Linked DNA regions of Homo sapiens: region 2 is linked to region 1. Evidence: fine-mapped expression QTL. A gene starts in region 1. The other region holds a variant in brackets. All regions are shown on one strand. Distances are between the middles of the regions.

Region 1 (5,368 bases):
AACTGAAGGGTGGTGGTGGGTCTGCTGGAAGGCCACCTTTGCCTGCAGACAAAATTGTTCTTCCCAATTGAGATGGGGGCTTTGGGGCCATTGGGACTGACATAACAAAGCAAAGTGAGGCTGTATCATATGTCAAAAAGGCAGTTTCCTGAAATTGAATACTTTAAAAATGTGAGCAGAGTAGAACAGCCCCAGGGGTCGTCAATCATCTCTTCTGGTCCAGGCTAGCTCAGGAGGGACTGGAAATGCACCCACCCCCAACTCGAAGCCGGGAGTGTTCATTAGTGGCCTTCCTCTCGGAGGAGGGGCTGAGGCTTCAGGCCTAGCCTTTGTTTTCTCTGGCCTGGCATGTAGGCAGATTTTTAGCGTCATAAATTGGAGAGGTGGGTGCTAGCATGTTAAGTAAATCTTATTTCCAGCATGTCCTGGGGACCTGGGACTAATACATTTTAAGAAATGTTTAATAGTAGGCCGGGTGCGGTTGCTCATGCCTGTAATCCCAGCACTTTGGGAGGCCGAGGTGGGTGGATCACGAGGTCAGGAGTTTGAGACCAGCCTGGCCAACATGGTGAAACTCTGTTTCTACTAAAAATACAAAAATTAGCCCGGCGTGGTGGCGCACCTGTAGTCCCAGCTACTCGGGAGGCTGAAGCAGAAGGATCGCTTGAACCCGGGAGGCGGAGGTTGCAGTGAGCCGAGATTGTGCCACCGCACTCCAGCCTGGGCAACCGAGCGAGACTCCGTCTCAAAAAAGAAAAGAAAAGAAAAGAAAAGTTTAATAGTTTTAAAAGAGTAATACCTATATTCCAATCACTTAAAATTAACATATTTTATCCAATCAAGGCATATCATCATTTTATACATCAAGAAAGAAAAGAAACTAGCGAACAAACGGGGCATAATGCCGCCTGGCTCCGCTTCCCCCTCCCCTCTCCCCCCGTCCTTAGGAGACACCTCTGGAGTTCAGAAATGCTAGGAGAGCAAGCTCTTCATTCTTAGAATCCAGGAAGGGCCGGGCTTTTGCAGCTCTCCTCTGCCAGGAAGCCGCTGGGGGGCGCAAGACGCCAGCTTCTCACCTTGGCAGAAGTGCCTGCCTGCAAGCGCAGAATGGAAACTTCCCCATAACAAATTCAGAAGTACCTTGTACATTCACCACCCACCTGAAGAAAGCCTGAATGAAAGGAACAAAGCCACGGCGTTGTTTACTTTCCCATTATCGCCCCAGTCTTGCGGCAGGGCCCGGGTTTCCATCCAATCCACCCGGCCCGCCACTGTCCTGGCCAGTCTCCAAGGCTTCACCCAAAAAAAGGAAGCAATGAGGTGTCCCCCAGCGCGCCTTTTCACGTAGCACAGAAGGTGCTCAGTGGGTGAATCCTCTGAAAGTGCCAGCGTGTATGGTCAAACGGCAGCAACCTCTAGCCTATTAAACTCTCCCAAGATCTCTTCCAGACTTATTCCATTGCCGGAAAAAAGGCTTTTTACATATGCGCATTTAAGTAATTAAGATATTTCAACATGGTATAAGACGTAGGGGCTCTTACTCCATCAGTACTGGATGGGAATTTCCTTTTGCCCTCTACTCCCCAGGGTAACTGCAGTCCCACCTGAATGCGTTTTGCAGCCCTTACTCGGGTTCTATTTATGCGCAGCTTGGACAGGGCTCACTGGGCCCGGCCGGGCAGCTCCGTGGCCGTCCCTCTCCACCGCCCTTCCCCCGCGCCAGGCCAATGCAAGGGTGTGTGTGTTGGGGGGAGGGGAGGACAAAAGGGGTTCAGGATCTTTTTAACCTGCCTGCAGATGGCGCCCCGGGAAAGATTCCGAGCTGCATTACCTAAGCTCCAGGGGCTGCAGCCGCGGGGTCCCGGCCACAGGGCGTCCAGCCGCGAAGACTGCACAGCAGCTCTCCGTCCTTCCCAACTCGCGCGGCTGTTCGGCACCCGTGCGAGGAACGGATGGAAGGGAATTACTTGTAGCAGGGCCAGTACTGGGGGCGTGCACTCAGGGACCACGGAGTGGCACTCAGCCTCGACCCCACGCGCCAGGCAGCCCGGCGACCCCCACGCGCGGCGGGGTCCTGCCCACCCCACCCGGCGGCAGGTGGACAGTGTTGCTATGAAGAGAAAGCCTCGATTGTCCCTACAGCAAACCGCCACACGCCAGACCTCTGCTATTGTGCGCCCTCCATAGAAATGCAAACGAGCGGCGTGCGCCGGCCGCAATCTGCTCGTCCCCGCCCGCCCCCGTCTCCCGCGCCCCGCCGCGCTCGGCCAAGGGCGGGGAGGTGGGGTGGGATCTTCCAGAGACGGCTCAATGTACACATTGAGTATGCCTGGCAGGCATCACCAGCGCGCTCGGGACGCTAGTGGTCAGCTGCAGGGGGCTGTGCCCACTGCCTTTTGCAAGCCTCTAACTGGCGCTACCTGTTTTTACCTTAATTTCTGGCTCCAATGCAACAGTCTCATAGACTTCAAATTAAAGAAAAGAAACAAATAGAAAGGTAGCAATACAAAATGCAAAAAAAAATCCCTTTGCTTCTATAAAGGTGCTTTTCGCAAATTGCAGCATCATATAAGCAAACAAGGTTTTTGTGGGTTGGGTTTTTTCTTTTTTTTTTTTTTTTACTTTTTCCTTTTAAGGACTTCAAAAAAAAAAAAAAGCCAGGCGAGATGAAATCTGCAGGCTCCAGTCTGCCTGGTAACACCCCAACAAAAGCGGCAGATTTGAGGCATTGTCATCCCCCGCACCCCTCCCCACGTGGCCTTCTGGCACGAGCCGCTGGCTCGCCGCCTCATTTACATCAGAAAGCGGGTGCCGGCCAATAGGCGCGCAGCCTCGCGCCAGCTGGCGGCGCCGCACCCACCAGCCTATATAAGGGCGCGCAGCGTAGTAGGGGCGCACTCGCTGGTGGTGGGCGCGCCGTGCTGAGCTCTGGCTGTCAGTGTGTTCGCCCGCGTCCCCTCCGCGCTCTCCGCTTGTGGATAACTAGCTGCTGGTTGATCGCACTATGACTCTGGAAGAAGTCCGCGGCCAGGACACAGTTCCGGAAAGCACAGCCAGGTGGGTTTCAGGGCGCTGAGAAAGCCGCTGGTCGGTCGGCGACCGTCAGGGTTTTCCAGGGTGGGAATCCGCGGGGTAGGAGGGGAGCGCGGGGGTCCGGGCGCCAGATCCCGGTTGGAGAGCCGGGGTGCAGGCGCTGAGCCGGGATTGGAGTGTGGTTGGAGTTGGGGAGCCAAGGGTGTGTGCCGGTGGCCGGGGCTGGGGTCTCCGCCGCGCCCTCCGGCCGGCTCCCGCTCACTGCGCTGGCTCCTCCGCAGGATGCAGGGTGCCGGGAAAGCGCTGCATGAGTTGCTGCTGTCGGCGCAGCGTCAGGGCTGCCTCACTGCCGGCGTCTACGAGTCAGCCAAAGTCTTGAACGTGTAAGTGTAGACGCGGCCCAGGCTGGGAGACAGGGGCGGGGGTGAATGGCGAGGAGACTGGCGGATGGGAGGGGTGGCGGCGGGAGAACTCGGCTAGCCGGTTCTGACCTAGGTCCCCGCCTTGCCCTCGCAGGGACCCCGACAATGTGACCTTCTGTGTGCTGGCTGCGGGTGAGGAGGACGAGGGCGACATCGCGCTGCAGATCCATTTTACGCTGATCCAGGCTTTCTGCTGCGAGAACGACATCGACATAGTGCGCGTGGGCGATGTGCAGCGGCTGGCGGCTATCGTGGGCGCCGGCGAGGAGGCGGGTGCGCCGGGCGACCTGCACTGCATCCTCATTTCGGTGAGTACAGTCCCGTCCTGTCCCCGCCCCAGTGTCGTTCCCGCCTCGGCCCGCGGCCAGCCAGGCTGACCCTGCTCTCTCTCCGCAGAACCCCAACGAGGACGCCTGGAAGGATCCCGCCTTGGAGAAGCTCAGCCTGTTTTGCGAGGAGAGCCGCAGCGTTAACGACTGGGTGCCCAGCATCACCCTCCCCGAGTGACAGCCCGGCGGGGACCTTGGTCTGATCGACGTGGTGACGCCCCGGGGCGCCTAGAGCGCGGCTGGCTCTGTGGAGGGGCCCTCCGAGGGTGCCCGAGTGCGGCGTGGAGACTGGCAGGCGGGGGGGGCGCCTGGAGAGCGAGGAGGCGCGGCCTCCCGAGGAGGGGCCCGGTGGCGGCAGGGCCAGGCTGGTCCGAGCTGAGGACTCTGCAAGTGTCTGGAGCGGCTGCTCGCCCAGGAAGGCCTAGGCTAGGACGTTGGCCTCAGGGCCAGGAAGGACAGACTGGCCGGGCAGGCGTGACTCAGCAGCCTGCGCTCGGCAGGAAGGAGCGGCGCCCTGGACTTGGTACAGTTGCAGGAGCGTGAAGGACTTAGCCGACTGCGCTGCTTTTTCAAAACGGATCCGGGCAATGCTTCGTTTTCTAAAGGATGCTGCTGTTGAAGCTTTGAATTTTACAATAAACTTTTTGAAACAAACTTATGCTCTTTATTGAGGGTAGGGGATCTTTGTGTCGGGGGAGGTGGCGTGCAGGGTTTCAGAGGATTGCTGGAACTCCGTGGAACTGATGGCACCTGTTCCGTCTTCCTGTCGGGCAAGAATGACAGGCTCCTCCCCTCTGGCAGAGGGAGGGCATGCTGCCCAGTGCTAGGGTAGAACTTGAGCCTGGCTCCTACTTTTCTCCTTTTAGGAAGATTTTAAACTTGCAAAACAGGAGCATACTTGAGATAAGACAGTGCAGCAGCTGAAGTCTTGCCTTCCAAGGCGATAACAGTGACCTGTGCCTCCCCTCCCCCTCCTCGGCCCTCCTCCCCCTCCCTCCTACAGCTGCTTATCTGAACAGCTTGCAGGAGGCCTCAGGCTTTCCTGCACAATGAGCATTGCCTTCTGCAGGCCCTGCCCTTTGTGGTCCCTGAGGATGGTGGCAGACTGCTCCTGCTCTTGGGGACTTTTTCCTCTTAAATGCTCTGACACAAAGCAATGCTACAAAGGTACTAATACCAAATATGACATTGATGACTGCATTTAAGTATGAGTCATTACTTTGTCATGGCTGTGATAGAACTTGGAAGATCTGAGAAAAAATTGGAAGGCAGCATCTATATAAATAGGCATGAGCAATTCTGAGGGGGCCTGGCATCTGCTATCTACTATTTTCAGTGTTCTCTGCCCACATCAGAGTTACGAGGATTGCTGCTATTCACAATTCCGTTTAAAGACTCATAGGAAAAAAAAATTAAATATTTTAAGCCAAGACTTTCTTTAAAAAGGAACTAGGGGGAAATGTCCTGATCGAATCAATCTTTTTTATGAGACCAATATGCCTTGAGTTCGTTCTGTGTCTAACTAGCTGCTTTCAGCAGGGGAAATACATGTGGGACCCTTGTGCTGTCAGCTAGACTGCCAAG
Region 2 (5,368 bases), 520 kb after region 1:
AGCACTGAGAATTAATTACCCCTTTTGCCACATACATTATATCATTTCCTTATGATCTCCTTCTGGGTCTACGATATGAACGTCTTCCAAATTAGACCTTTCTCCAGAGTGCTGCTTAATTCCCAAATATTGTTTGGTTCATTTTCATGTGGACATATTATTATTATAATGCTTTTATAGTAAGGTGCAGGGTCAAGTTACAAGGTCAAAAAGAGCGTGAATATGTAATAAAGCTTCATGAGACGCTATATGCTGTTGGGGACCATCTCTATAGTGATGAAAAGAATGAGAGGCACTCTCCAGTTTCGCCTATTTTCCCTCCTTGCTTTTTCTCTCCCTTTCCAAGATTAGATTCTCTTGAATTTATGTATTTTAATTCTCAGTTTCTCTTCTCTAATCCTGATGCATTTTTCCCTTCTCCTGTTCAACAGATTTTTCTCTGGTTAATGCTTTCTATTCAACATACAGAATTCTAGATTGGAAGTGGTGATTTTAAGACTGAAATGATTTTATTGTCTTCTGGTATCTATTGCCACTAATGACAAATCTGCTAATTGCCAGTCCTTTGTGGGTCTTTTTTCTCTGGTAGTTTTAAAAACTTTTTTTTCTTTAATAGCCTTTTGCTTTACCCCAATATGACTAGGCTAATTTTTCTTTACCTTGTTATTCATTTCTTCCTCCAGTCTGAAAAATTCTCAGTGAGTTTTTCAAACATGAGTTTATATCTTCAACTGTTTTCTCTTTCTGTGCTGTGTAGGCAGATATTATTTAGTTTATCTTCTTATTTACTGAATATTCCCTCCCTTCCCTCCCTCCCTCCCTCCCTTCCTTTCTCTCTCTCTCTCTCTTTCTTTCTTTCTTTCTTTCTTTCTTTCTTTCTTTCTTTCTTTCTTTCTTTCTTTCCCTCAGATGGAGTCTCGCTCTGTTGCCCAGGCTGGAGTGCAGTGGTGCGATCTTGGCTCACTATAAGCTCCGCCTCCCAGATTCATGCCATTCTCCTGCATCAGCCTTCTGAGTACCTGGGACTACAGGCACCCACCACCATGCCCAGCTAATTATTTTGAATTTTTAGTAGAGATGGGGTTTCACCATGTTAGCCAGGATGGTCTCGATCTCCTGACCTCGTGATCCACCCACCTCGGCCTCCCAAAGTGCTGGGATTACAGGAGTGAGCCACCACACCTGGCCTGAATATTCTTTCTTTTAAAGAGAAAAATGATAGATAATGTTTATACTGTCTTTCAAGAGTTTTTTAAATTTCAATGACTATATTTGCCATTTCTAACATTTCTAATTGATTACTTTTTAGGTACACATGTTCCCTGTGCTTTCCTTCATAATATTTTTCAATGCAGCTATATCCCTCTTTTGTCTTTCAGAAGATATGAAAAAATTATATTACAGCTGTAATATACAGCTGTGTTGGGCTACTTTGCTAGTCTTGAGTGAATACTCTGCTGTATTTGCTGCCTGGTTAGTGTTGGTTTCTGCTGTGTGGTCAGAATTTTATTTTGCAAATGCATCTTGAAGAAGAAATTTTAGTTTTTTCTCTGTAATCACCCCAGATGTTTTAGAAGCTTCATTATTGCTCTCATCACCTTATCCCTATGGCTTCATAAAGGCCACAGTTCCTGTATGGACAGCCTGAGCTTCCTGTCCTGGAGTGACACTCAGTATATCTGAGATCAAGTTCTCGAGGTAGCAGTGGCTTGGCCAGGTCCTGGCACTATGCATGTGTCTGCTGAGCAGCCTGTGCCCTCCGCTCCCCGGGTATGGCCTGTGTCACCAGCGCTAGCTTCAGCAGCCTTATGCAGTACACCTAGTTCTCATCCTCCACACAAACAGCGTGCTTTCAGTGTGGTTGTCTCTCAGGAGTGTAAGAGATCACACCTCTGTCTCTTTCCACTTCTGAAGGCTATGAGGCTGCAGCTTGCTGTCTCAGGCCTCAAGCTTCCCTCTATGTTTCTGACCCATTTCTGATCCATGAAACTATGTGTGCCTGTTTTTACCTTATTTTTTGTGTTACCTATGATTTCTATGTGGGCGAAGGAGGTAGGATTAAATGCTTGATCTCACAGTGCCATTCTGAGAGGTTTTCAGCCTCTCTATTCTGAATGAGTTTAGCAGCCTCCCCACCCCCCAGCACACATGAAAGGAGGGGGCTCAGAGGGTCTCTTAGGTCCCCAGTGCCAAGGGTTTGGGTGTGATGAAGGACATGATTCCGGTCAGTGCCTCAATCACAAACAGGGCAGGGCAAGAGGGTGCACAAAGTTTGGTGTGACCTGTCCCCATAAATGGAGAAGCAACTCAAATCCCACATCCTGCCCCAAGGCATGAAGAGATAGGTGGGAAAGCAGCCCTTCTCCTCTCCTGGAGGAGGCTCCTCAGTGCCAGCGACAGGATGCTCTGTCCCTGGTATGGACTACTGTTCCCACTGCCCATGTACATAGTAAGCCGTGTGCTATAAAAAGCAACCCATATAAACAGTCACTGAATCGCCTGTTGAATTGGGAACATTCCTGCTGATTAACCTGAAAGCTTTTTCCAATTGAAGATTGGCATAGGGGTTGAAAATATAGAATGTATTCAGTTTTACATTGTTTAGAGTACTCTAAAAAAAATCCCTTTAAAAATGTCTTCAGGCGAGCGTTTTGGAGCACACAATAAACAGCAGATAAAAAGGACAGTATTTCCCAGGAAATCGAAGTTGACATATTTGTTTTCAGTTGCTATTTATGACATGTTGGGAATTGTTCCTCTTTATTTGTGGTTGTATAACAACCCACAATCTAGTTCTCTCACTCTGACCTAATTCCAGAGGTCTGCATGTCCTTCCCCAAGAAGGGCTGGGCTCCTCCTGTCTGACCACTACCTGGCCTTGATTAGTGTGACCTTCTTTTGTAGCTAGGCGCCAGCCATGTGGGGTTGACCCTTATTAGTGGCCATCTCAGGCCATAGAGGGCATGTATTTGTTCATTCCTCAGGACTGATTGTCTGGGAATATGAAGGTCTTTCAAAATTATGCTCCAGATGGAATAGAACCTGGACCAAGTTCTTTCTGCAGTGATAACTAGTAATGGAGTGGTAAACTGTGTGCAAATGGATGGAATCTAGCATCATGGAGGTCCTTATGCATGAACAGCTTGATAACACAGATTAGCAAACACAGAGACCACTCGTCTTATGGTCAGCAGTAAAGTGGACATTGTGCC[G/A]ATGGAAGTGATCTTCTGGCTTCCATATCTGAAGGACAGATGGCTCGGCTCTGGAAACAGAAGAGCAGAGGGCATGTTTGCTGAGAGAAAACAGGCTGGCATTGCTGCGGAGTGGCCCATTCAATGCAAGGTAGATTCATGGAGAGGAGGGTATATGAGCTGGTGGCACTCTGGCACATCCAGATGATTAAACCAACAGGAAAGTTCTGGCTGGGTGCTCAGGAGTGAAATCCAGGGAAAGGCAGGGATTTGGCAGGATTCCATTAGAGAATATTCAGGAAATGAGGGAAAGAGGCTTTGGGGACCATGCAATAAGAAGACCAAAAGAGGCAGCAGGTCAAGAAAGGAGGCAGAAAGAATGGAGGAGAACCCACGAAACAGAGATCCATGGAGGCTGCGTGTGTGCCTAGTCACCAGAGGAGGAAAGGAGCAGGAGGGCTGGGGAAAGTTCTGCCCTTGTTGAGGTTTCTGTCCAATTCTGGAAGAAGAATTTCAATCAAACTGCAGAGCTGGAGGACAGATTGGGAGGAAGCTGAAATGAATGCAGATAACTACTTTAATATTTGGACAGGAAGGAGAAGCTATCAGGAGACAGGCATCAGGACGTGAAAAATGTTCACTTTAGAACTGCTTTCATGGCCTTTTAGAACAGTCCTGAGCATAATTTACACAGGAGACACCATGCACAACGGGGAAGGAGAAACCCAACATGAAGATAACATATGAAGGAGGAGAGGGAAGGGAGGCAGCCTGGCCTAACTGACACATTAGCACCCAGGATTGAGAGGTCAGAAATAAGTAGCATGAGCATGCATGCCAACCTTGGAAAAGCGAGGGGGGATGAAAAACAAATCAATGAGTGCAAAGTAGTTTTATTATTATTATTATTATTATACTTTAAGTTCTGGGGTACATGTGCAGAACGTGCAGGTTTGTTACATAGGTATACACGTGCCATGGTGGTTTGCTGCACCCATCAACCAGTCATCTACATTAGGTATTTCTCCTAATGCTATCCCTCCTCTAGCACCCCCAACCCCCGACAGGCCCTGGTGTGTGATGTTCCCCTCCCTGTTTCCATGTGTTCTCATTGTTCAACTCCCACTTATGCGTGAGAACATGTGGTATTTGGTTTTCTGTTCCTGTGTTACTTTGCTGAGAAGGATGGTTTCCAGCTTCATCCATGTCCCTACAAAGGACATGAACTCATCCTTTTTATGGCTGTATAGTATTCCACAGTGTACATATGCAATTTTAAATTAGAAAAGAGAAATGAGGACAGCTAGGTGACTTCTGAACATCCCTGGAATGATAAAGAAGCCCATAGATTTACAGCAGTGCTATCCAGTGTAACTTTGTGGGGTGATGGAAATGTCCCTTCTGCACTGCCCAGCGTGGTAACCACTAGCACCGTGTGCCACTAGTGAGTGCTCAAAATGAGGCTAGTGAGACAGAGGATTGAAATTATTTTAAATGTGAGGTGGTTTATGCCTGCAATCCCAGTGTTTTGGGAGGCCGAGGCGGAAAGATTGCTTGAATCCAGAAGTTCAAGCCCAGCTTGGGCAGCATAGTGAGACCCTGTCTCTACAAAAATGAACAAAATTAGCCGACTGTGGTGGCATGTACCTATAGTCCCAGTTACCCAGGAGGCTGAGGTGGGAGGATTTCTTGAGTCTGGGAGGTCAAGGCTGCAGTGAGCCGAGATTGTGTCACTTCACTCCTGCCTGGATGACAGAGCTAGACCGTGTCTCAAAAAAAAGAAAAGGAAAAAAAAAGTAAAAAGACAAATGTGGTGAGTGGCTGTCACGTTGTACAATGTAGGTGAGATATCAAAATCACCTCGTTCCAGGGTGGTGGCTCTCGAGAGCCACTAACTCTTCTCTGCAGGATGCAAGTGTCCGCAGCAGCCCTCCTGCTCCATCCTGCCTCCCTGGTCTGCCTAGAGGAGGAGAGGAGGGCCATCCCAGTGAGGAGACCTCGCTGCCCCAAACTTAGACTTTCACCTTCTCAAAATAAGACTTCTGAGACTAATTGCATCTTTGGTCTGTGTTCACCTCAGTCCCCACCACAAATCTAAACCTTGGGGGTCACCTTTATCGCAATTAAGAGCTTTACCTACTCTATTCTGAAATACGGTCATCAGACGTCATGCCCCA

The links.
Region 2: its variant is fine-mapped to the expression of GADD45G in cerebellum (GTEx, PIP above 0.99).

The regions. Positions count from the first base shown.
Region 1 is chr9:89,602,118-89,607,485 of GRCh38, forward strand. GADD45G (growth arrest and DNA damage inducible gamma) reads left to right here and starts at 2,895. Exons shown (of 4, transcript NM_006705.4): 1 at 2,895-3,057; 2 at 3,315-3,416; 3 at 3,550-3,763; 4 at 3,852-4,438. The coding sequence starts at 3,005. The coding sequence ends at 3,962. LOC105376139 (a long non-coding RNA gene) reads right to left here and starts at 2,899. Exons shown (of 2, transcript XR_930105.3): 1 at 623-2,899. RefSeq lists an enhancer at 1,706-2,604 and a silencer at 2,215-2,264.
Region 2 is chr9:90,126,371-90,131,738 of GRCh38, forward strand. No RefSeq gene overlaps it. Among named protein-coding and RNA genes, the nearest start is that of MIR4290HG, 88 kb to the left of the region's middle. The variant G/A (reference allele first, on the strand shown) is at 3,213.